Homo sapiens: one gene and its partners. The protein of the gene in region 2 binds, or shares a complex with, the protein of the main gene of each other region. Each region holds a gene or a part of one and is shown on either strand. Other genes may lie near its edges.

What was found.
Region 1: DRC12 (region 2) and DRC5 share a complex: the UniProt entries of both Homo sapiens proteins name them as parts of the nexin-dynein regulatory complex.
Region 3: DRC12 (region 2) and DRC7 share a complex: the UniProt entries of both Homo sapiens proteins name them as parts of the nexin-dynein regulatory complex.
Region 4: DRC12 (region 2) and DRC4 share a complex: the UniProt entries of both Homo sapiens proteins name them as parts of the nexin-dynein regulatory complex.

What each region holds. Positions count from the first base shown.
Region 1 is NC_000006.12:44,294,666-44,302,631, forward strand, and holds the start of DRC5 (dynein regulatory complex subunit 5), read right to left. Parts: upstream 3,034-7,966; 5' UTR 2,994-3,033; exon of another isoform or gene 2,486-2,993; intron 1,882-2,485; exon of another isoform or gene 1,649-1,881; intron 1-1,648. Other genes in the region: AARS2 (alanine--tRNA ligase, mitochondrial), read right to left, coding at 5,882-6,046, 6,491-6,601, 6,716-6,799, 7,395-7,505, 7,726-7,848. UniProt on the Homo sapiens protein: Component of the nexin-dynein regulatory complex (N-DRC) a key regulator of ciliary/flagellar motility which maintains the alignment and integrity of the distal axoneme and regulates microtubule sliding in motile axonemes.
Region 2 is NC_000011.10:119,189,725-119,192,845, forward strand, and holds the end of DRC12 (dynein regulatory complex protein 12), read right to left. Parts: intron 1,117-3,121; coding exon 986-1,116; intron 918-985; exon of another isoform or gene 843-917; intron 729-842; coding exon 576-728; 3' UTR 530-575; downstream 1-529. UniProt on the Homo sapiens protein: Component of the nexin-dynein regulatory complex (N-DRC), a key regulator of ciliary/flagellar motility which maintains the alignment and integrity of the distal axoneme and regulates microtubule sliding in motile axonemes.
Region 3 is NC_000016.10:57,718,778-57,725,810, reverse strand, and holds part of DRC7 (dynein regulatory complex subunit 7), read right to left. Parts: intron 4,145-7,033; coding exon 4,072-4,144; intron 3,099-4,071; coding exon 2,970-3,098; intron 2,810-2,969; coding exon 2,681-2,809; intron 1,197-2,680; coding exon 976-1,196; intron 1-975. UniProt on the Homo sapiens protein: Component of the nexin-dynein regulatory complex (N-DRC) a key regulator of ciliary/flagellar motility which maintains the alignment and integrity of the distal axoneme and regulates microtubule sliding in motile axonemes.
Region 4 is NC_000016.10:90,032,674-90,039,706, reverse strand, and holds part of DRC4 (dynein regulatory complex subunit 4), read right to left. Parts: intron 6,990-7,033; coding exon 6,783-6,989; intron 4,075-6,782; coding exon 4,020-4,074; intron 3,327-4,019; coding exon 3,121-3,326; intron 2,476-3,120; coding exon 2,308-2,475; intron 1,946-2,307; coding exon 1,859-1,945; intron 1-1,858. UniProt on the Homo sapiens protein: Component of the nexin-dynein regulatory complex (N-DRC), a key regulator of ciliary/flagellar motility which maintains the alignment and integrity of the distal axoneme and regulates microtubule sliding in motile axonemes.

The DNA of each region.
Region 1 (7,966 bases), on a different chromosome or scaffold from region 2:
TAATTAGGGGAAAAAAATGAAGGTTGAACCCAGGAGGCAGAGGTTGCAGTGAGCTGAGATTGCGCCACTACACTCCAGCCTGGGCAATGAGAGCAAAACTCTGTCTCAAAAAAAAAAAAAAAAAAAAAGAAAGAAAGAAAAAGAAAGGAGGCAAGGAGAATAACCACAGAAAGGAGAGGAGGTGGGGAGTGGGTAAAGGAGAAGACAGGAGTCTGAGAGAGCTCTGCCTGTTTCACAGATTGGTCTTAGTCTGGCCTGGCAGTCATCAGCCTGCAGCTGAGGGTGCAAGTAGGTGGCACTATCTTCCCTGGGAGCCTGCAGGGATGGGTGGATACCCAATAGCTGGGGGCCCCGGGCACATGGACAGTCCCCAAGGACCCACAGAGGGCAGTCCTGGAGGTGGCTGAAGGGTCACCTTCCTCTCCGGAGCTTTCTTTCCCTGGGAACCTGTTGGGCCAGTCAGAGAATGCCAGAGTTTGAAGACTAGGAGCATGTTCAAGACTCCAGTCTTGAACATGGGCAGGGCAGGAATCCTGACATTCCAGAGAGGTCAGGGCCACCAGGAGTGGGTACGTCTTGTGCCACCACCTGGTGTCTCCATCCAAGGATGTGCTGCGCTCTCAGAGGGGGAAAGTGGGAGAGTGGGGACACGTGCAGTGGACTTTCACTTCTCTGGGGCCTGCCTCACCAGCTTGTTTGGCTTCACATGGTTGTGTCTCTAACCTGGGACCACAGTCCCCAGGGAAAGGCCAATCCTCCTCCCCTGGGCCCCTACTCTGCATCCTCAGGACCAGGGTCCAGGGTCCTGAAATCACACACAGGGAACAACGTCTATACCAGGACATTAACTCAAAGGATTGGGTGTGGACTGCTCTTTCCATGCCCAAGCACAGGTAATAGAAAGTGACAAGATGTTCCAGTTTGGCCAGGGTTGTCCTCATTTCTGATGGCTTGAATCTGGTGGACAGGTGTTCTGGGAACCATACCCTTGGCTATATATAGCTATGATTTATTGAGAGCTCTAGGCCTTCAATAACATGTACATAGCAGGAGGCAGGACAGCAGCTGGCTAAGTACTCAGGAGTTGTGCTGCTGCCTCAAGTCAAATCTCCACGGTGCCCCCCACTATCTGTGCAACCTTGGGCAGGTCCCCACTTGCCTCAGTTTCTTCATCTATAACGTGGGGACAGTACTTAATAGTATCTATTTCATAGGATTACTCAGAAGATTAAGGAGCTAATGTGTGTGAGACATTTCATATAGTGCTGGGCCCAGAGCCAGCACTCAAGATGTGTGTTAGATATTGTAGTGAAGATGCTAGATACCTTACTACATAATTTTATTAAAATCTCAAATTAATTATTGAGGATTATTATTTAACACTATTGTCCCCATTTCACAAATGAGGAAACTGAAACTTAGAAAGCTTAAGTAACTTACTAAATGTCACTAGCTAGTAAGTGGAGAAGCTGAGGTTTTAGTTTGTGTCTGTCTAATGCTCTTACTTCCATGAGATGCTGGGGTTGCTTATAAATTGCTCCCAACTCAGTCATTCATAGCACTTTTCCAGTGGGTCTCCCACTTTCTCCAGCTCATGAGCTCTCTTGTTCACCAATATGGAGCCCAGGGTTATACCCTTGGTGCTGACCTAAATAGTCCAGGCTCCCTCTTCCAGTTCACTGCTGGGTATAGGAGACTTCCGCAAGGCTGGACCACTGCCTGCATCCTTTGGAGGGTGCAAGGAGCCCAACAGAGTGCTGCAGAGTGGTGCTCTCCTGCCCCTGGCATATTCCCTCCACAGGAAGTCTCAGGTCTTCTCCATCCTTCCTCAGGTCCCCAGCTAAATCTAACCATTCTGGGTAGGAGCTCCTTCCACCTGCCCTAATGGGAACACGAGGAAGATGCTGTAGGTTTGCATTCTCACCTTCTTGTGCATCACAGTTCTGGTCCTCAACTGTCCCCTCCTCCCTTCCTCTTAGTGGAGAAGTGGAGACACCCGGCCCTCTTTGGGCAGACAGCGCCTCTGTGCCCGGGACACTTCCCCAGGAGCTGGCTTTGCACCCACTGCTCTGACTGCCTTCTCTGCCTTCTCAGCCGCTCCCACCCCAGATCCCCTCAGGAGAGCCCTCCTCTGTTCTCAGGGCTCTGGGCTTTTGTCTACAGCCACCTCCATATCCTTCATGCCCACCATGTCTTACTTTGGGGTAAGTCACTCCCAAGTTGGGAATTCCACTTGTGGAAGGGCAAAAAACTTTCTCCAACTGAGCCTCGGCCCGTGTGCTTGGACTTGGGCTGGGTGAAACCGCCAGTTCACTTACCACAGCCCCTGGGCTGGCCTCCTCCCAACTCCTGACCACTCAGGTCTGTTGTCTCAAAAGTGACTCCAGCGGCTCTGGAGTCTCCCACCCCTCCTCCCTACCTTCAGCTCAGACACCCCAGCAGAGAAGCTCAGCTCCAAAGGCCAGGAGTCCCTCCCCCATCCTACCTGGGGTGTAGAGGCGCTGGCTTCTCCTTGGTAACCCAGGGAAACCGGCAGTGCAGTGGGAGGTAGGGAGATGAGGAAGCTTCCGCACCCGCGGGAGGGATTACAGCCCTCGGGTGATGGGAACGGACGGCCTTTCGGAGAAGCCTAGGGCCCCAGGGCTTGGGACCGCTCTCCTCCACGCCCTACGGATGCCCCACTTTCCCCCTCTTCTTCCCAGTCCCTCCCCTCGCCTCACTCGGATCCCCAGCCCCGGGCCAGACGGTTTGCAGACAGTGACTGTGGTGGGGAGGAGGCGCGGGGCGTCCTCGCGTGGAGGGCGTGGGGTCTCCCGTGGGTACGGACCGGCGCTTCCCCGCCACGGAAAACGCAACCCAGGCAATGGCCGCCCGTGGGCTTCGGGCCGGTGTGGGCAGAGGACGCTAGAGGGGCTCCCGGGCCCAGCCGGCCAGAGGGGGCCCCGATAAGGGAGACCGGGGCTGGGTGTCCCCACTCCCGGAGGTCGCCTCACCCGCTCCGGGAGCCCCGGCGCTCGCCTCACGCAGAGTCCCGCGCGCCGGCGCAGGTCTTTGTCGTTGGGGACGCCCCGCGTTGCTAGGAGCGGGCCGGGCCGGGAGGACGAGCGCGCCGCTGCTTCCTCCGCTGCCGCTGCCGCTGCGCGCCAGGCACGCGGCTTACTCGCGCGCAGGGTGGCCAGGCCCGGCCTCGGGACGGTTCCGTGGAAGCGGCCGCTTTGCGGGTAGTGGGACTGTGGCCTTGCGCTATGCCCTGTGCTTCCGTGGGACGTGTCTAGGAACGGGTGGGCTTTCTGCGGGAGGCGGGGGTCGGGCAGGGCTGCTGGTCTGGAGTGCTTGTGCTCTCTTGGTAGCTTTTGTGTGGCAATGGATAGGGAGCTGGTCCAGGAAAAGCGTCTGTGGAAGAAGAGGAGGGTGGACGCACCTTCTCCAAGGCACCTGTAGAAGTCACTGGAACTCCCGTGAGGCCTCCTGTTGACCTTAGGCCCTGCGGGAGGGAGGGCACCTTCCACCTTTCCCCCAGCTGAAGGTCTGGTACCAGACGCAGGAAGGTTCCAGGCCAACACAGCGCTCCTTCACACAGTCCATGCCCTGTGCCAAACTCTCTTCCAGCCCTGGCGCGACAAGATGTGGTTGGGGCCCCAGATCTCCTGGAGGGCGAGAGGGACAGACCAGAGGGACGGCTAGTAAAAAAAAAGAAATTGGCCTTCAGGAAGGGAGAGGCAGCCAGGGTGGCGGGGCTTTCAAAGGGTAGCTTTGACTTCAGCTCTGCCGAGGACTACTAGTTGGTTACCCTGGATGAACATCTCGAAGCTCTGTTAACTCATCAATAAATCAGGGGTGCCAAAACTCATCTTGGCGCTCGCGGAGGAGCTTGAACCTGGGCCTGTGGTGAGCACTGCTAAACAGGCTACTGCCCCAGTGGCCAGGATGCTGCTTTGCAAGCAGTGAGGGGCCAGGCACCCGGGATTGGGTCCCTTCAAGCCCTCAGCAGTGCCTTACCAGCAAATCATCAGTGCCTTAATTAGAATGAGAAACTGCAGAAAATGATGCCAGGCGGGCCCACGCTGCTCGAATAATTTTTACTAGACAGAATTTGGTAGCCAGGGAGCCCTTGATTTGAAGATGGATCCCCTGAGGCCCTTTCCTTCATCTAGCAACAGAGATCTAGGAACAAAGGCAGAGGTCCAAAGTCTGGCTGTCTGAGGTGGACTCATTCTGGTAGGGAAGGAGGGCTTTCCTCCATCTCTGCTTCCTCCTGCTTTGAAGTGCCAATTTTCAGCTTCAGCTCAGGCTTGAGGCAGGTGCTGTACAACTTGTTTTAATAAGCATATTGTTTGTCTGACCCCGCTCTCCAGCCTCCTCACCTGCCCCTATCCCAGCTCACTGCTCAGTGGCACTGGCCACCTCACGGCCTCTGCATTGGCTGTTCCCTCAGGCTGGAATGCTTTTCCCTGATTTCCACACGGGTCACACCCTCACCTCCCAGCTCCCTGCTCACATGTCACCTCTTGGTGAGGGAATATCACCATCCACACTCCTGATCCCCATTCTCTATTTCCCCCCCAGACCTCATCACCATCTGACACTTTCTCCCTTCTTTTTTTTAAGACAGGGTCTCACTCTGTTGCCTGGAGTGCAGTGGTGCAATCATAGCTCACTGCGGCCTTGAATTCCTGGGCAAAGTGATTTTCCCACCTCAGCCTCCCAAGTAGCTGGGACCAAGGTGTGGGTAGTCTCAGCTACCTGGGAGGCTGAGGCATAAAGATTACTTTTTTTTTTTTTTGTAGACAGGGTCTTGCTGTTTGCGCAGGCTGGTCTTGCACTTCTGGCCTCAAGCGATTCTCCAACCTCAGCCTCCTAAAATGCCAGGATTATAGGCATGAGCCACCAAGCCTGACCCTCTTCTTTTGCTTTATTTCCTGTTTCCTCCACATGAAGCAGGCTCCATGAAGGAAGGAACTGTCAGTTTAGTGCCCGCCACGTTCTCAGTTGCTCAATTCATCAACAAACCAGCAGGGCCCAATTTAAATTAGAGGTCATTGTTAATGAAAGAAGTAATAGCAAAGAAGGTCTCCAGTGCTGAAATGATTTTCACAGGATGGTTCTGTATCTTCCCAGTAGCCAGGGAGCCCTTTGTCTGCCCACTGTTGCCTGGCACGCAGAGCCTGTCCGAACACTCATGGCAATGAAGATGGCCCGATTTGGATCCTGGGTGGCCTTTCAGACAGTGTGAGTTCAGACTGGTCTTAGGTTGCTGGGAGGGGCAAAACTACTCTTTTTTAAAGGTAATAGAACCTTCTGGAGCTTGCTATCCTCTGTGAAATAATTATTTGAGACAGAGTCTCGCTCTGTCACCCAGGCTGGAGTGCAGTGGTGCGATCTTGGCCCACTGCAACCTCCACCTCCCAGGTTCAAGCGATTCTTCTGCCTCAGCCTCCCGAGTAGCTGGGACTACAGGCGTGTGCCACCACACCCGGCTAATTTTTTGTATTTTTAGTAGAGATGGGGTTTCACCATGTTAGCCAGGATGGTTTTGATCTCCTGACCTCATGATCTACCTGCCTCGGCCTCCCAAAGTGCTTGGATTACAGGTGTGAACCACCACACCCGGCCAGTGAAATAATTTCTAATGTGCAGTCACAGCCATAATTGTCCATGTCTTCTCTTTCACCAAGGGGGTGTGTGTCTTTGGGCCCAGTTCTGCCTTCCCTAGCCCATGTCTCCTTGTGTCACGTAGGCCCTGGCCCAGGTGATCTTCTTTGGCTCAGCTGCTTGGCCTCCAGCCTCTAGTCCTCGCTTCAGCATGTGGGAAGGTTCTGCTGGCTCCTTCAGGGCTCCTGGCATTGCCTTTAGTCCATGTGGGTCCCTGGGCGGACCTGGGTCAGAGCTGGCTGAGGGCATAGGTTTGGGCTATACTGAGGGCAGCTTCCAGGTCAGTAGTGCTTCCGGTGCCTTGGGCCACCACTCGTGAGCCCCACGCCTTGCCCCCCATGTGGCTGCACACTGCCAGTGCCCAGGCCTCTGCTGTGAAGGTGGGCATGGCACCCTAGGAACAGAATCAGAAGAGGAAGCGATGCAGAGTGGCCCTCCCTGCCAGCATCCACTCAAGGTACCCTCAAGAGTGGAGCTGAAGGTCATCAGTGCCCCCTTCCCAGCTGGGCACATGGTGGGGCAGTCAGGTGATGAGCCGGAGAAGGTTTGGGCTGGAAATGTGTGTGGGGAGGTGTATGAACGTGAACATCTGCTACTTGTTTACAAGGGATGTGAGGCCTGGGAGGGGTTAGGAATTAAGGAATCTCTTGGTGCCTTCTGGGGTGGGGAGGGGCTGTTTTCAGGAACAAGGAGATTCCCCATCCCTGTCCTGGAGTATCCTCATAGATACTTCCACCCAGCCTTGGCCCCTTTGGGAGGAATTAAAGGTGTAAAATCAGAGAGCTGGACCAGGATGGGTATTAATGGGGGCGGTGGGCTGCTCTCCCACTTCCCTCACCTGGGCCACCTGACAGGCACACAGCACCTTCCCCATGGGCTGGGGGCTGAGTAGGAGCACAGACGTGCTGGGGGCCTGCTCACACAGCTGCCGTACCACCTTCACCAGCACCTGGACCACGAAAGACAGATGGTGAGCCCATCGCTTCCCAGACCCCTAGCTGTCTCCTGGTCAGGACTTTGCCCTCCCCAGACCCTGGGGCAGCCCGGCTTGGCTAGCACTCACTGAGAGAGACTCAGCAGAGACTGTGTCCACAATCAGAGGCCCCTTCGAGTGCCGCTCCAGCAGCTCCTGAGTTTTCTTTGCAGCCTATGGGGCAGGAAGGACAAGCAGAGGGGTCAGGCTGAGAGGCAGGTTTCCAATTAGCCCCAACTTCTGAACTAAGCCCCAGCTGAGCAATCCCCTGCTTCCCCCACCCACCCCAAAAGTCATTAGCTCTAGGCAGAGGTGGCAGGGACTCTGCCTAGGGTGGCCTCCTTTTTGGGTCCCACATGTGTCCTTCCTCACTTCCCTCACCACTTCCCTTTCATCATAGCTTCAGGCCCCTACAAATAGGTCGCTGAAGGTGAAAGGAGGAAGGTCAGAGCACAGATGGACCAGGAGTGGGCGGGAGAAAGGGGGATCCACAGTGGAGGTGCAATCAGGGCTGAATGGCACTAATCAAGTCAGTAGGCTTCCGGGGGTTCTGAGCCAGACTTGGGAGTTGGGGGAGAAACACAGTTTGAAAGAGACAGAAGTGGGGGAATGGCCTGGGTGATGGTTCTCAGCTGGCAGGAGAAGGAAGCTGCCACCACCCCGTCCTTGCACAGCCTCTGACTCACCCCCATGCCCCAGCCCTTGAGACTTCTCAGTGTATCTGCTGGAGTGTCTCTGGGCACATGGGTGCAGCCAAACCTCCTCTCACCTGTCCCATTTGCAGCTTACGGATGGCAGTGTTGGCACGCCGCTGCAGCATCTTCACTGTGGCCAGCAGCTCCCGCCGCTGCCACTGGGGCATCACAGCAGTTTCCACAGCCTATGGCCAGAAGCAGTACATCACCCCTGCCCTTCCCTGAGCCATAGTCTCTGAGGTAGGGACCAGCAGGGCCAGGGAAGACACCCACCCTGCAGACAAATATCTGGGCCAGCTGGAGCCCAACCCAATTGGAGTGCTAGGGAGAGTCTGAAGGAGTCCAGGGAGGAATAGGGGAGGTAATAGGGCTAGGAGAGGGTGGGGTGGTAGGCGTGGCCCTCACTTCAATGAGTCGTCCTATGTCCTTGGACAGCCTCAGTGCCTCCGCCACATCCCGGCTCCCCAGACTCAGCCGCTCAGTGGCCGCTTTCACTTCCTGGGCCAGGCTCTGGCCTAGCTCTCGGGCCTGCAGGGAGGGGACAGGAGGGTCAGGATTACATTCATCTCCCCAGGACAAGGCCTCTCAACTCATTACTGGTCAGGGACAAATAAGATTTAACAATCAGGACCAATCAAGGCACCAG
Region 2 (3,121 bases):
TATGGGAGTTTTAGAGAGCTGTGTCCCAAGGATGAAGGTGTGGCTGTGGGTCTGGCTAGGATTGAAGCCATCTGGACCTTTTCTAGATATGACTCCAGGACCCTTGAGTGTAATGCAAAAATTTGGAGACCAGCTATGCCTGCCCTCTGTGGGTGCCTTAGCATTGCGGGAGGGTGGTGCTTGGTCACCGTTGCATTTGTTATAGAAATGGCCATTCGCCATAAATCTGACTGCCTGTGTTTGTGTTGGTGGGGGTAAGGGGCAGTGGTGTGAAGGGACCAAAAGGGCCTCAGGCTCAAGGGGTGGGATGCGGCTCCTGCAGGAGAGAGGTTGAGACCTGGTCAAATTTATTTCCTATCAATCACTGAATCTCAGGGATAATGGGTCAACCCAGAACTGAGATGTCTGTATGACAGCCACTCCTAAAAATAAACAACAACAAAAACAAAAAAAGAAGAAAACTAAATAAAAATAAAAATAAAAATAAGATCCACTTCTCTCTGCCAAACGGCCAGAGCCCACAGCTCTATTGAGTTCTACATCAAGACACTTTATTGCTGGGGCCTCAGAGAACACTAGAGACTAGGGGCTGGTGGCCTCAAAGATCCAGGGGGGGTGAGTCCAAACTGGCGTTGCTGCTCCTTGTGCCTGGCGTGAAGTCTCAGTGCTGCCCCATCCCACTGCTGCTTGATGGCTCTCAGCTTGGCCAAGAGCCTGTCCAGACTGTCCTGCAGACATCAATATTTCAGACCCCAGAAAGAGAGAGAGGGAAGGAGTGAGTGCTGCCCCAGGTTGGTTCATAAGCTTTCCTTGCCCAGTAGACATGGTCGTATCCCCTCTGTCTGCCCTCAGGATAGAGCAGGGCTCCCTTGGAGACGCTCCTTCTCCTTAACCCTGGGTTGTCAGTCATCATACGAGCTGGGGTTTGTGGGCATGGGGGAGTCCTGGGTACTGGGATGGCTGGGATCCAGGGGGTGGTGCTTACGTGTAAGATTTCCTCATACTTCGCCTCCATGTCTGCCATGTGGGCCCGAAGCTGAGCCAGGGCCTGGTCCCGCTCTCCGAGAGCTTGTTCAGCCTCTTCCCGGGCAGCTGCAGCCTCCCTTTGGCATGCCTCTGGGGGCAGGCAGGATGAAAGAGAGCAGGATGGTGACACTCTATCCTTGACCAGTCTCTCCAAAGGTATCTGGAAAGGAGACCTCAAATGGGCTCGTTCCAGACTCCCCCAGCATCACCAAATTTCCCGCAGTCCCTGTAAAAGCTGAAGCTCCACTGAGGTATATAGCAGAGAGTGGCGGGCTTGAGATAGAAGGCTCCAAAGTCGGATTACTACCTAGGTGACCACATGCATGTCTCTTTCTGAGCCTTGGTGTCTTCATCTTTTTTTTTTTTTTTAGATGGAGTCTCACTCTGTCGCCAGGCTGGAGTGCAGTGGCGCGATCTCAGCTCACTGCAACTGCCACCTCCTGGGTTCAAGCAATTCTCCTGCCTCAGCCTCCCGAGTAGCTGGGATTACAGGCACATGCCACCATGCCCAGCTAATCTTCGAATTTTTAGTAGAGATGGGGTTTCACCATGTTGGCCAGGATGGTCCCTATCTCTTAACCTTGTGATCCGCCCGCCTCGGCCTCCCAAAGTGGTGGGATTACAAGTGTGAGCCACCGCGGCTGGCTGGTGTCTTCATCTGTAAAGAGAGAATGACACATCCCTCAGGGGCATGCTGTGACCTTTAAACATGATAAATGGATGACAAAGCACCTAGCTAGTATACAGGAGGTGCTCAGTAAACATTGATTCATTGGCCGGGTGCGGTGGCTCACGCCTGTAATCCTAGCACTTTGGGAGGCCGAGGAGGGCGGATTACCTGAGGTCAGGAGTCCGAAACGAGCCCGGCCAACATAGGTGAATCTCCATCTCTACTAAAAATACAAAAATTAGCCAGGCATGGTGGCGCACACCTGTAATCCCAGCTACTCGGGAGACTGAGGCAGGAGAATTGCTTGAACGTAGGAGGTGGAGGTTGCAGTGAGCCGAGATTTGCCATTGCACTCCAGAATGAGCGACCAGAGTGAAACTCCGTCTCAAAACAAAAAACAAAAAACAAAAAAATCCCCAAAACAACAACAGCAAAAACAAAAACAATTGAGTCATTGATTGACTTGGAATTTGAGGTAAAGCAAAGATTAGGAAAGGAACCCAGAGTCTGAATGGCAGATAAGCAGCTCCTGGCCATCTATAGCTAAACCGAAGGCCTTTTTTTTTTTTTTTTTAGTTGGAATCTTACTCTGTTGCCGAGGCTGGAGTGCAGTGGTGCGATCTCGGCTCACTGCAGCCTCCGCCTCCTGGGTTCAAGTGATTCTCCTGACTCAGCCTCCCAAGTAGCTGAGATTACAGGCACACGCCACCATGCTCAGCTAATTTTTGTAATTTTAGTAGAGATGGCATTTCACCATACTGGCCAGGCTGGTCTCAAACTCCTGGCCTCAAGCAATTCTCTTGCCTTGGCCTCCCAAAGTGCTGGGATTACAGGGGTGAGCCACCGCACCCGGTTGAAGGCATTTTTAAGGTATGAAAACTTTGAGACCAAAATTGTGAAAGAGCTCATGTGTCATGCTGAGATATTTCAACATTATTTTGTAAGCAAGAGACAAGAGAAGCAAAGGCTTCCTGGTTTTTAAAAATATTTTTGCTTATTAGGAGTGTTTATTCATTTATTTGGTGAACAGTTATTTAGGATCTACCAGATGCTAGGTCTTGAAGATACAGAAGTAAATAAGTCAAACATTTCCCCTTAGTTTCATTGTAGAAATCAGCTAAACTAAAAGGGAATATGTTTTGCTCACAAGAGACATGGCAGTGGTGGGGAGTTAGGGCTGGACTTGAGAGGAGGAAATGGGGTGTGAGGCCTACATCTTCTTTTTTATTTTTATTTATTTTTTTGAGACAGAGTCTTGCTCTGTTGCCCAGGCTGGAGTGCAATGGCGTGATCTCGGCTCACTGCAACCTCTGCCTCCTGGGTTCAAGCGATTCTCCTGCTTCAGCCTCCCGAGTAGCTGGGATTACAGGTGTGCGCCACCACATCCGGCTAATTTTTATATTTTTAGTAGAGACGGGGTTTTGC
Region 3 (7,033 bases), on a different chromosome or scaffold from region 2:
AGCTCACCACCTCTCCAGGCAGCCTACTCCATTGCTAGACATCCCTTACTGCTAGAAAGAGCTTCTTTGGCATGCTGCCATTACACACAGTTGCCAACTAATTTGTAATGACATGAAGGGGAAAATGCACAATTTCATGTTAAGTGGGTAATACAGGGACTCTAATCCCTGGGTCCCGATCTCAATTACATTAGAAAAAACTCTCAAAACCAAACCTATAATCCGTGGCAACATATGAGAGATGCCATTCTGAGATATGTTTACTTTTCTCTACATTTTTACATATTTTCCAAATGTTTAGTCATGAGTGTGTATTTTTGTATAACAATAAGGAAGTAACACATCCTTGGCCCCATGGCTGAGGGCACAGTCTGACACCAGACAACCCCAGGATGGCGCATTTGGTGATATGGTTTAGTTTCGTGTCCCCCCACCAAAATCTCACCTTGAACTGTAATCCCCATAGGTCAAGGGCGGGACCAGGTGGAGATAATTGAATCATGGAGGTGGTTTCCCCCATGCTATTCTCGTGATAGTGAGTGAGTTCTCCCACGATCTGATGGTTTTATAAGCAGCTTCCCCTTTGCTCAGCACTTATTCTCTCTCCTGCTGCCCTGATTCTAGTGAAAAGGACCCTTTTCACTAGGCAGAAGGTGGAAAGGACCCTTTTCACTAGGCAGAAGGTGAAAAGGACCCTTCTGCCATGATTTTAAGTTTCCTAAGGGCTCCCCAGCCATGCAGAACTGTGAGTCAAGGAAACTTCTTTTCTTTATAAATTACCCAGTCTCAGGTATTTCTTCAAAGCAGCATGAGAACAGACTAATACATTTGGTAAAATGCTTGGTTCATCATTGGTGCCCTTGGATATGTCTCAGGCCTTAATGCCACCCCAGAGCCAGGGCTCTCACCATTCAGAGGTGACATCAGCTGCCAGAGAAGGAGGGCGACCTGTCCCCAGCCCCCGCGAGCTCTTACCACAATGGGCCGGGGGTTTGACTCTGCACTGCTCAGAGTGAGCTTCTTGACTCGGGGTCCGAAGCTGGCATGGCGGTAGGAGAGGAAGTCTGGGCGTCCTTGATAGTACTCTGTCATTGTCCTGGGTGTCTCCTCCCGCTTCATCAGGCCATCCACACGGGCCGTTTCATAAAACTCAATGACACGGTCCATCTCAGGTTGCATGGACTTGTACGAGTGCACTGGGTGGGGAGCGGGAGTTGGGAGGAGACAGCTTCATAAGCACTAGGAAGTATGGCTGCTGGCTTGGTCGCCCAACCCCAGGCCCAGGGAGAAGACAGACCCACATTATGGATGAGGTTAGCTATGAACCAGTCCCCTATTGCTGGGTGTTTAGGTTGCGTACAACTTTTTCTGATTATTACCAACACCATGATGAACATCTGCATCGTGCATTTTTTGTTCTTGTCCATTATTTGCTAAGAATAAATTCTCAGCAGTGGAATTGCTGGGCCCAAAAGTGTACTTTTTTTTTTTTTTTTTTTTTGAGACACAGCCTCGCTCTGTCACCCAGGCTGGAGTGCAGTGGTGTGATCTCAGCTCACCGCAGTCTCCGCCACCTGGGTTCAAGTGACTCTCCTGTCTCAGCCTCCCAAGTAACTGGGACTACAGGCACCTGCCACCACACCTGGCTAATTTTTGTATTTTTAGTAGAAACGGGGTTTCACCATGTTGGCCAGGCTGGTCTCAAACTCCTGACCTCAGGTGATCCACCCAAAGTGCTGTGATTATAGGTGTGCGCCACTGTGCCCAGCCAAAAGCGTACACGTTTTATGGTCATTATCAATATTTTGCCCAACTGTCCTCCAGAAAAGTTCCAATCTGCTGTCCCATCAACAGTGACACAGAGTGACTGTTGCTCCCATACTTGTTCATACCCAGTAGGACCATTTTTTTCATCTTTGCCAACATGGGGGTTATAAGATGGTCCTTTATTGGTTAGGGACCTTATTAGTTTCTTTTTTTTTATTATCAACTTCCAAATGAGGTTGATCATTTAAAAAAAATGTATATTACTCCTATGCTTTTCTTTTGTAAATTTCTTGGTCAGGATTTTTTTTTTTTTCTTGAGACAGGATCTCTATCTGTCACCCAGGCTGGAGTGCAGTGGCATAATCTCGGCTCACTGCAGCCTCGACCTCCTGGGTTCAAGTGATTCTCCTGCCTTAGTCTCCTGAGTAGCTGGGATTACAAGCACATGCCACCATGCCTGGCTAATTTTTATATTTTTTGTAGAGATGGGGTTTCACCATATAGCCCAGGCTGGTCTTGAACCCCTGGGCTCAACTGCCCATGTTGGCCTCCCAAAGCGCTTGGATTACAGGTGTGAGCCCCTGTGTCCGGCACTGCCTCCTTTAAATGTGGCCTCCACCGTGTGACCCCATGGTGAGGTTCCGGCCTGATTCCAACCACAGAACGGGTATGTGGCGCCCCCTTTAGCTTTCCTGGAGGAGCATTTGTTATATTTCCTTAGAATTTCTGAGCTTTCCCTGACCTCCCACACATCGGGTTTGCTGAGGGAGGCAGGGCAGCTTCTACTGCTTGCTGCCCAAGAACCCATGTATAATATGTATGCTGGTTCCTGCCACCACATACCACCTGCCACAGGGTGTGTGAGGCCTCTACCCCAGGCTCCTGGGTGGCCCAGGAAAGGGGAGCCACGCACCGCGCAGAGCCTGGGGGTGGCCAGGCTTGAAGTAGTCTGTCTTCAGGTCTGTGGTCTTGTTTATGTGTTTCAGCTCCAGCATGTCTTCCCGGTTCTGGTACCACTCCTTTATCTCCAAAATATTGGTACCTGTGGGGCCGATGGACACTTGCCGCAGCCAGGCCAGCTCCCCTAGCCTTCAACCCCCCTTATTCCAGGCACACAGAGGCCAGCAATGACCCCAGAGAGAGTAGAAGCCGCCCCCGCCCCTGGGCTGGCCTGGACCCATGTCCAGAGCAATCCCCCTTACACTGCAAGTCCTCATAGGTGGTGAGGCGGCTCACAAGGCCATTGCTATTGAGGTACGGGGCCCACTTCTCCAGCTTTGCCCTCTTGTACTGAATCACCTTCTTCCCGTTCGGGCAGCGGGTCTCAAATGCTGTGGACACAGTCAGCTGTGGTCTCTTCTTGCTAGTTTGGGGGAAGGGAGGGCCAGCCCCGCCCAGCCATTCATCCATCCACTGCCCGTTCTCTGTGTACTGAACTCCTCCAGCCCCAAGCCTGATCCAGGGAGGCCGAGGAGAATAATCACCAGGGGTGGCTCCAGCCCTAGAGGGGTTCTCAGGCCAGGCAGAAGCACAGATCCACCCAAGAATGGGATTTGAGCCCCATCAGAGGGTCTGCCCTGCAGCCAACCACACTCTCACATTGCCAGGCCTTTGCTTGTACAGGTCTCTGCCAGAAACACCGTCATCCCCTCCTCCCCTTGTTGGACTGACTCCTTCAGATCCTTCCAAACTTCACCCAGGTGACCCCTAGCCTACTTCTGGTACCCCTTTCTGCTCACCCATCCCCAGGCCCTAGCCCCAGTGCTGGGCTGGGTGCGCCCCCCTCTGGGTTCCCATGACAGCCTCTCTGGCACTTCCCACCCTGTTGAAGTGGCCCATGCCCTCCCCATAGGTCTGGGTGCTCCCTAGGTGGGCACCAGCAGATATTGACATGGAGCATGACAGTCCCTGCCCTCCTGCCTTCTCTACCTGCCCCTCTCCGGTCCTGAGACCCCCCGCACCATCTGGGCACTGCCCATGGCCTCCTCTGGGTAGAAGAGTGTGAGAGGGGAATGGGCTGGGTTTCCAGGCCTTGCTGTCACCTACACGCCATCATCCCACACATGCTCACTGAACTGCATCGCCCCGTGTGCCAGACTGGTCGTCAGGCCCTCGGGGTCAGAGCTGAGTGCGTGTGGCAGGAAGGGGGGAGGGAGGGAGGGAGGGTGCAGCTGAAGGTGAGAAGGGTGGAAATGTGGGGCATGGCATTCCCTGCTGTGTCCCCCTGCCTCGCTGTTGCAGACCTCTCTGGAGGCCCAGGAACTGGATCTGGAGAGGATAAGTGAATACACAAATAGAAAATACCTTCCGGGGAGATCTCAATCTGCTCCACCCACGAGTGGGGCATGTCGAAGCTCTTATCCTCATCCTCCTTGCCCTGATGGGAGAGAAGGGGGTGGGGGAGGTGGTGCTGGTCAGGGTGTTGAAGCAGAAGTTATGGTCAAAGCTCTGTCTCTGCCTGCAGAGCCAAGCCAAGGTGGTCCGTTGGCTTCCGCAGGGGAACTGGAGGTCATGAGCACGACCCATGATGTGGAAAAGGAGGAGTCGACTCTGGGCAGGGAGCCCTTCCCTATACTTGCCTGGCTTAGGACAGCAGCACCCCCTGCCCTGGCTGCAGGCCCTTCGTGATTAGAGAGGTGTTTCTGGAGTCAGGGTACCCAAGCCCCACCCTCTCTCCAAGACCAGCTAAGGGGTCCTGGGCAAGTCCTTTAACTGCTCTAAGCCTTAGTTTTCTTAACTGTAAACTGGACCTTTTAGGAGGATTAAATGATATAATGTCTGTAAAGGCCTTGGGGCTCTGATTGGCTGACATTATTATTATTATTATCATTTGAGATGGAGTCTTGTTCTGTTGCCCAGGCTGGAGTGCAGTGAATCTTGGCTCACTGAAACCTCCGTCTCCCAGGTTCAAGTGATTCTCCTGCCTCAGCCTCCTGAGTAGCTGGGATTACAGGCATGCACCTACCACACCCAGTTGATTTTTGTATTTTTAGTAGAGACGGCCGGGGGAGGAGGGTGGTGTCTCACCGTGTTGCCCAGGCTGGTCTTGAACTCCTGACCTCAAATGATATGCCCACCTTGGCCTCCCATAGTGCTGGGATTACAGGCATGAGCCACCATGCCCGGCCTATTATTATTTCCTCTCTGAGCCTTAATTTCCCCATTTGTGAAATAAGGCCCGATCTAGATAAATGGTCCTCAAACTAGATAATCACAGAAACTTGGATAAGACTTTCTCGACTTAAAACCTTTTTTCCACAAACATTGCTCATACCTCTGACAACTGTTTATCTAATTGTGACATTTTGCAGGGGACAAAAATGAGTGAGCAGTCAGCAGTTAGTATTGTCAAAAATCTCTAAGATGGTCAGGTGGGTGGGCTGTCACCCGGGGTCTGGTTTTTCCTGGGGGTCCATGACTGGGTTCTGACTCTTTGGGCTGCCCTCTGTCCGTCTTTGCTGTAATGAGGGCTCTTGGGCCAGGGTGGACCAGGACTCTGTGACTGGAACTGTTTGATTATTAGCCATGTGGGTGCTCAGCCGGCTGCCTGCAGGGCTGGGCTCTCAGGCCCTGGCTGGTCCATGCCCCAAGGCCAGCAGGGGGCACCTATGCCTGGATTTACTGCACACAAGATGTCCCCAGTCTCTGGAGATGAGGATGCTGAGAACATTTAGCACCCTTTTGAGATGGTCTACACTGCTGTGCCAAGCACATCACATCAAGCAGCCCCAGGAGGTAGAACAGAGTTACCATTGAGAACCCAGACTGTGGAGCCAGACTGTGTAGGTTCAAATCCCAGCTCTGTCACTTACCAGCTGTATCGCTTTGGGTAAGTGACTTAACCTCTCTGTGTGTGAGTCTTCCCATCGGTAAAATGGGATAATATTAATCACAGGTGGTAATACCAGTGCCCACCTCACCAGGTGGCTGTGGGGATTTAAATGAGTTACTTCAGGTTAAGTAGATACAATGGATCCCAGTGCTTAGTAAGGACCATGTGAGTGCTACCTTTTGCTACGGGCTGAATGGCATCCCCCTAAAATTCATAGGTTGAAGTTTTAAGCCCTGAAAGTGACTGTATTTGTTTTATTTATTTTTCTTATTTTTTCTTTGTTGTTGTTGTTGTCTTGATCACTTACTGTTTGAATGATTGTTTTTAGAGACAGGGTCTTTAGAGAGGTGATTAAGGTAAAATGAGTTCATTAGAGTGGGCCCTAACCCAATATGACTGGTGTTGGTTGGGCATGGTGGCTCATGCCTGTAATACCAACACTTTGGGAGGCCAAGGCAAGGGGATCTCTTGAGCCCAGGAGTTCGAGACCAGCCTAGGTAACATAGCAAGACCATGTCTCTCTGAAAAACAAAAATTAGCTGGGTATGGTGGTGTGTGTCTGTAGTCCCAGCTACTCCAGAGGCCAAAGTGGAAGGATCATTTGAGCCCAGGAGTTCGAGGCTGCAGTGAGCTATGATCGTGCCACTGCACTCCAGCCTGGGCAACAGAGGAGACCCTGTCTCAAAAAAAAATAAAAAGAAAAATGACTGGTGTCCTTATAAGAACAGATTAGGACATAGATTTGTACAGAGGGAAGACAATGTGAAGACAGGGAGAAGACAGCCATCTACAAGCCGAGGACAGGGGGCTCAGAAGGAACCAACCCTGTCCACACCTTGATCTCAGACTTCCAGCCTCCAGAACTGTAAGAAAATTAATTTCTGTCATTTAAGCAACCGCATCTGTGGTGCTTTGTGATGCCAGACGAATGCACTTATTAGAATTACTATGAATACAACTATGATCCTTCTGCCTCCATTTCACATAAAGGCTGAAACTGAATTCAGAGAAGGGAGGCTGGTGATGTGGGTAAGGCCCTGGCCAACGACATTCAGAGGAACTGACAGAACAGACAAGAAAGGCCTGGCAGCATGTGGGGCTCATGATGGCTACTTGGGATAGAACTGAGAACAGCCAGCTCTGGGACTCCCAGGGGGTTGCAGAGCGGGGTGTTATGACCCCGCTCTGCAACTTTCTTTTTCTAAATTTATTTTTATTTTTATTTTTTGTGGTGGGGTGGGGTTGCGCAGGCTGGAATGCAGTGGCATGAACATGGCTCACTGCAGCTTCGGCCTCCCAGTCTCAAGTGATCCTCCTGCCTCAGCCTCCCAAGTAGCTGGGACAACAGGTGCATGCCACCACAGCCAGCTAATTTTTAAATTTTCTTGTAGAGACAGGGTCCCACTATGTTGCCCAGGCTGGCAAGGGACATGC
Region 4 (7,033 bases), on a different chromosome or scaffold from region 2:
ATAAAAAAGTGAACACCCTGAGCAGCGTGTGGTGGCTCACGCCTGTAATCCCAGCACTTTGGGAGGGTGAGGTGGGTGGATCGCCTGAGGTCAGGAGTTCGAGACCAGCCTGGCCAACAGAGTGAAACCCTGTCTCTATCAGAAATACCAAACATTAGCCGGGCGTGGTGGCAGGCGCCTGTAATCCCAGCTACTCGGGAGGCCGAGGCAGGAGTATCACTTGAACCCAGGAGGTGGAGGTTGCAGTGAGCCGAGATCGTGCCATTGTACTCCAGCCTGGGCAACAAGAGCGAAACTCCATCTCAAAAATAAATAAATAAATAAATAAATAAATAAATAAATAAATAACTGCCTTGGTCTCTAAATTTTGCTGATAAATTTGAGCTCTCGGTTCTCTAGGAAGAGACACCAGCTTGGACACTGTCAGGAACCACATTCAAATGGAAGAAAATGTGACAGAAAACAAGGCTCCAACCCAGGCACGTCTCTGCTGTCCTCTTCCCAATAATGTCCACCTCAAAACCCACAGGGAGAAGGAAGGGCCCCTTGTCTAACACAGCAGTCCTCAGGATCTCACTGACTACCTTGCAGGTGCCCTTCCCTTAGGTGCCAAGAGTTGGCACAGCCTAGCAATGCACGTCGTGCAGGACCTGAGGTGTCTCTGAAGGTGGGGCTAGATCTGACAGACAGATGGGATATTTCTGAGAAGCGAATCCCACTACAACGGTTTGTGTTCAAAAATTTCAATTAGGTTAGAGAACAAAACAGCACATATAACTGCGGCTCAAGATAAGATGCCCTGGCCCCGCACACCACAGACAAAGCCTTGAGGGGCCCATGCTGCAGGGATTGGTCCTTGGCCAGAACTTTGAAACTGAACAGAGGCAAGGAGCGTCTTTAAGGGACAGAGACAGGACCGAGCACCCCTACCACTCACTGCGAATCTTGGAAGTGCCCACGAAATGAGATGTTTTCCACCCAGTCACTTCTGCAAAGGTTTAAACCTGTCAGATCTGGTGCAGGTGAGGATGGAAACGGCCCCTCCGCACCCTGGCAGGTGTGTGACTCAGAGCAGCCCTCTGGACAGATGATCAGGGTCCTCAGAACAGAACCCTCAGACTCAACAATCCCACTGCTAGGAACTGGCTTTCCTAAGAAGCAATCTCACACAAGTGCACAAAGACAAATTTAAAAGGATTGAGGCAGCAATGCTTATAGCAGCAGAGCATTAGAAACAGACGGGAGTCGGCTAAATGATCAAACGTTCACAAAACGCAGCACCAAGCAGCTGTGAAAAGGATGAGACCGCTTCCTATGTGCAGCCTGATACACTGTGAGATTAAAAAGCAAATTGTGCTTATGGCCTGATCCCGTGTTCGTAACATACAAAGTCACATCCACACGAGAGCATGCAGGAAACCTGGAAGGGAGCCCATAAAACTCGCCAGTGTGAGGACCAGCACTGAGCAGCCGGAGACTCATCTTCACTTACACTTAAGAGCCTCCCTCATGTGCTTTCAGAGGTGAGCTCTCGAGGGGACGAAAGTCATGTGTGATCCGTTCCCCATCAAGACCCCAGGCCTTCTGCAGAATATGCATGCAGAACAGGCCACAGGTTTTTGCCTCTTAGAAGCTGCGGAATGAGTTACAGGGAACAGGGCCTCCAGCTTCAGAACCCAGAAACCTGGCCAAGGCATCTGAAGCTGGTCCAGGGGCCACAAGGAGAGCCCCGTCCCTGGCTAGCAGGGGTGCCATCCCCACTGCAGGGCCAGCCTAGTGCCCGCTCACCTTGGTGAACTTGGTGAACCGTTGCTCTAACACCCACCGCCAACTGCAGGGCCAGCGTGGTGCCACTCACCTTGGTGAATCGCTGCTCTAACACTTCATGCTCCCACTGCAGGTCTTTCAGCTCTTTCTCCCTGACTTTCAAACGGGCTTTTGTGCACTGGAGGAAAAACAGGGAGTAGGGGACAGAAAGTATTCAAGATTCACAGTCATCCAAGTAACACGGGCTCCTGGGAGATGGCAAGGCCAAAAATAATCGCCAGAAAGACCTGGTTCCAGGACACAAGCAGCTGAGTCTCACCAAGGCCGGCCGGTAGCACGTGGTGAAGATGAGGGCCTTGTCTCCAAAACACCCCCAGACTTTACTTTCCCCAGGAGAACACGAGGCAGAGAAAGGAGAAATGCAGGCCTCCCCGTCTCCCTTCCTGCCCTAAGGGCCAAGCCCCTCCCTGTGATGCTCCTCCCTCCTGAGCCTAGGCAAGCTCATGCCAAGGAGGGAGAGGAATCCAGCGGGAAACTCACAAGCAGGATCTGCTTGTCCCTCTCGTAGTTTGCGAGCTGTTTCTGCATCTCGCTCATCTCCTCCCGAGCCTTCTGGAGAGGGTCTGCCAGGCGCTTGTTCTGCCCAGACACCTCTGCCATCTCCCTCTCCAGGTGGTCCTCCTTCTTCCGCATGTCCTCCATCTGCTCCTGCAGGCACAAGCACAGGCCCGGCAGGGGCTCAGCAGGCAGAACCAAAGGGGCTGTGGCCTGCATGGTGAGAGCTGGGTGCTCTCCTGCCCATCACCAGCTGCTGCCAGCCTCAGGCATGCTGGCACCTAGACGTCTTCTATGTATAAACAGTATTTCTGCAGCTTCAACTTATTCTGAGTTTTCTGGGAATGCAGCTTCCATGCAGACTGAAGGACTATACTTTGTTCAAGATTCCACCAAGGGCCGTTGTCTACTGTAGAAAATCCTGTCACTGCCAGCATGCAGTGACGATGACACCTATCCACCTGTCGCAGGCAGTGACTATGACACCTATCCACTCCAGCCACATCACGGCCCTCACTGCGGTTCCATCTGAGCTTTTACAAACCAGAACACACTTCATTACTTCCCCCTCTGCACTACGGTGAGGGCAATATCCTGACTGCTTTTAACAATAGGTAGAGATAGGTTACGTTATTTAGGAATTTCAGTTAAGGATATGAGAGGGGCATTGTCAAACAATCTTATAAAAAGTACTGGGTGTGTTGGGGTGGAGAGCTGGGGTCTGGATCCCCAGGACTCTGCAGCCCACATTCTAGGACAGGCAGAGTGTGCCTCCCCAGCCCAGCCCACGCACAGCACCTTGAGGGAGTTGATGAGGGCCAGGTTGTTGAGGGTGATGTCGTTGTAGTAGTTCTTAATGTCGGTGAAGGCCTCCTCGTGGCGCTGCATCAGCGTGTGGATCTGGCCATTCTTCCTCTCCTCCACTTCGTGGAGCTCAGTCTTTCTCCGCAAGTCGAGTTCGTCCCTCAGCATCTTCATCTTCTTATCATACTTGGCCTCAATTTCTGAAAGGCAGCAGCAAACAGCAGCTTAGCAGAGGAAGACGTGGTGCCCCTACGGCTACAGAACATGGAGCCTGTAAACGGGCCCAAAACGCCCACTGTGGTCAGAACAGCCTTGCAGGCAAAAGCTCTGCAAGAGAAGAACAAAGGGGTTTAGACTGAGTTTTTCTGCTGATGCTCACACTCAGCACACACACCACTGTCGGCCTGCCTTTGCCAGTGACAGGCATTGCTAATCGCTCCCTGCACTGGGGGTGCCAACAGCTGAATGTCAGCTGACCCCAGTGAGCAGTAACCGAGGCCTGTGTGGCCACCCAGCCACAATCAGCCTTTATTAGTAAAACACAGAGACTTCTGAAATTGGAGCCTTCTCAGACCAGGAGCCATGGAGAAGACTATTTTAAGAAGGCTGCCCACGGCACTGAATAGCTACCACCTGCTGATAACTACTGATTTTAGCTAGGAGTGGGAATGTGTGTGGTAATCACAGCCTCCCAAACTCACATGGAAATAGGTTGTTCTGGGATTCTGAGTGGGTCCACTGGCCTTGGAAACTTCCATGTTCTTTCTCTTGCATGCCTTGGCTGTTTTAATCCAGTTTTTGCTCCCTGAGTTAACAAGCTCTGGAGGTAAATTCCTCTCTGATGGGGCGGGGGTGTCTCTGGCACCTACACAATGAGCACACGGGAAACTGACCTCGAACTTGCCTCTCAAAATCATTCCGCATCCTGGTGATCTCCTCGGTGTGTTTCTGCACAGGGAGAAGCGGCCATTACTACACAGCCGGACACAGAGGGAAGCCCGCTCCCTTCAGGCTGACCCTGTTCCTCATGGTTTTGGTCACCTCCATATTCCCTAACTCACCTCCCTCAACTAAAGTCACCTCTAAGCTTGAGAGAGAACATGAACAGACGTCGTGAGCACTGAACCCGCTTGGTTCCATCGCCAAACCATCCCACAGCCTGAAGAGCAGCAGCCACATCCACACAGAGCTGTGGGATCTTTCCAGGTGCCGTGTGTAGCTTCCAACCTGCTGCACTGCTGCCTGAAGCAGCATATTAAAAGGATTCATTCCTGTCATCCCAGCACGCTGGAGGCCAAGGCAGGAGGATCACTTGAGGTCAAGAGTTCAAGGGCAGCCTAAGCAACATAGCAAGATCTTCTACAGAAAATTTAAAGATTGCCGGGCACAGTGGCTCACGCCTGTAATCCCAGCACTTTGGGAGGCCGAGCTGGACAGACCACCTGAGGTCGGGAGTTTAAGACCAGCCTGACCAACATGGAGAAACCCCGTCTCTACTAAAAATACAAAATTAGCCGGGCATGGTGGCACATGCCTGTAATCCCAGCTAGTCGAGAGGCTGAGGCAGGAGAATAGCTTGAACCCGGGAGGCAGAGGTTGTGGTGAACTGAGATTGTGCCACTGCACTCCAGCCTGGGCAACAAGAGCAAAACTCCATCTCAAAAAAAAAAAAAAAAAAAAAAAAAAAAGATTAGGTGGGTGTGGTGGCTCATATCTATAGTTCCAGCTACTTGGGAGGCTAAGGCAGAAGGATCACTTGAGACTAGAAGTTCGAGGCTGCAGTGAGCTATGATTGTACCATTGCACTGCAGCCCGGGAGACAGAGTGAGACCTCATCTCTAAAAATAAATAAATATATAGTTTTAATGAACAATTATTATATATTTAAATAAACATTATATATTTAAAATTTGCATAAAAAAATAAATTATTTTTAAAGCAGTAATTTTTCTTTTTTTTGAGACAGACTCTCACACTGTCGCCCAGGCTGGAGTGCAGTGGCACAATCTCGGCTCACCGCAACCTCCGTCTCCCAGGTTCAAGTGATTCTTCTGCCTCAGCGTCCCGAGTAGCTGGGATTATAGGTGTGCGCCACCACGCCCGGCTAATTTTTGTATTTTTAGTAGAGACGGGGTTTCACCACGTTGGTCAGGCTGGTCTCAAACTCCTGACCTCGTGATACACCCTCCTCGGCCTCCCAAAGTGCTGGGATTACAGGCGTGAGCCACCGCACCCGGCCTAAAGCCATATTTTTACCCAACAGGAAACTCTGATTATGTAACAATATCATATCCAGGACCTGGGTTAAGACCAGCTAATTCTGGAGGGCTCAAGACTTCGGCACTCTCAGGCTTTGCTGCGAAGTCAGCAACGTCACCAAGTTTCTTCCAGATTCAGTGGAGGCTGGACTGCTTCCAGGCGTGAGGCAAATGTGTTCAGAAAGTCTCCTCAACCCAGCAGCCAGGAAGAACCTTAGTGAGACACATCTCTCCTCTGCCCAAGTTCTCAGAGGGCAACAGACTCCACCAGGGTCAAAGTCCCAGTCCCCACCACGGCTTTCGAGGCGGACGAGCTCTGACCCGTCTCCAGTCCCCACCACGGCTTTCGAGGCGGACAAGCTCTGACCCTCTCCCACAGTCTCCTCCTGGTCACTCTGAGCTTTCCCACTGGCCCATCCCGTCTCCCAGCCGGTCAACTGCTTGTACAAAACCGCACCCCACCTCTCCCCACTTCGATCCTTCTATGGCACTCTTCCCCACCAGATACTCTGTTGTATCTGGCACGTTTATTTTGTCTTCCAACTCACCTGTTGTCTCTCCTTTCTAGACCAACAGCCCCAGTCGGGCAGGCGTTTTGTCAGAGATCAGATCAGGACCTAGCAGCTAATGGACACTCAGCAAATGATCTCTTTCCTTTTTGTTTTGTCTCACTCTGTCACCTAGGCTGGAATGCAGTGGCACAATCCTAGCTCACCACAGCCTTGACTTCCTGAGCTCAAGGGATCCTCCCGCCTCAGCCTCCCAAGTAGCTGAAACTATCGGCATGTGCCACTACACCAGCTAATGTTTTCTTTTAAATTTTTTAGACATGGGGTTCAACTATTTCACCCAAGCTAGTCTCAAACTATTGGCCTCAACCACTTCTCCCACCTGACCCTCCCAAGTGCTGGGATTTTGGGTGTGAGCCACTGAACCAGGTGCACAGATGAATTTTAATGGTGCCCTGGAAACCCCCAGCCTCAAAAGTAAAAATCAGACCAGCTTGTGTGACAAACTGTCACAGTGCCCAGGAGTCAACACACTGGATATTTTAATGGTTGGTTTGCATTCTACTAAATGCATATGATGCTATTCCCTAGGAAAAGTCTCTGGGTGTCAGGTGTCAGCAGCACATGAAAGATCCTAAGCTGGATTTTTTCTCTTCGGTGACGTCAATTTTTTGCTCAGGTCTGAGACAGAATTGTGTACTTGGTCCCAAAATGGGGTTTGTTTGGATGCATGCTTTAAAAAATTTTTTTTCAACAAATTGCAAAAATGCAGAAAGTCTTATGCAGAAATATGAATTCCCAGTTGCTGTTGAATAAACAGGAGTTCATGCAGCACTAGGCTTGCCGTCCCAACAACCTGTCAGCCTCCAGGTGCCCCCGCCACACCTACCAGCCGCAGGTTCTTCACCACCACCTCACTGGCCAGCTCCTGCTCCTTGAGCTCCACCTTCAGTGCCCGCATGTCCTTGCGCAGCACACTCTCCTGTATGCGGTGCTCTTTCTGTGCCAGCTTCATGACTACAGTGCCCTCAGCCTTCATCTCTGTCAGGTTGTTCTGGTGCTCATATAGCAGGTGCTTCACTTTCTGCTTGTACACCTGCAGGGCAATGGGAGTACCATCTGCTCACCTGCACCACACCT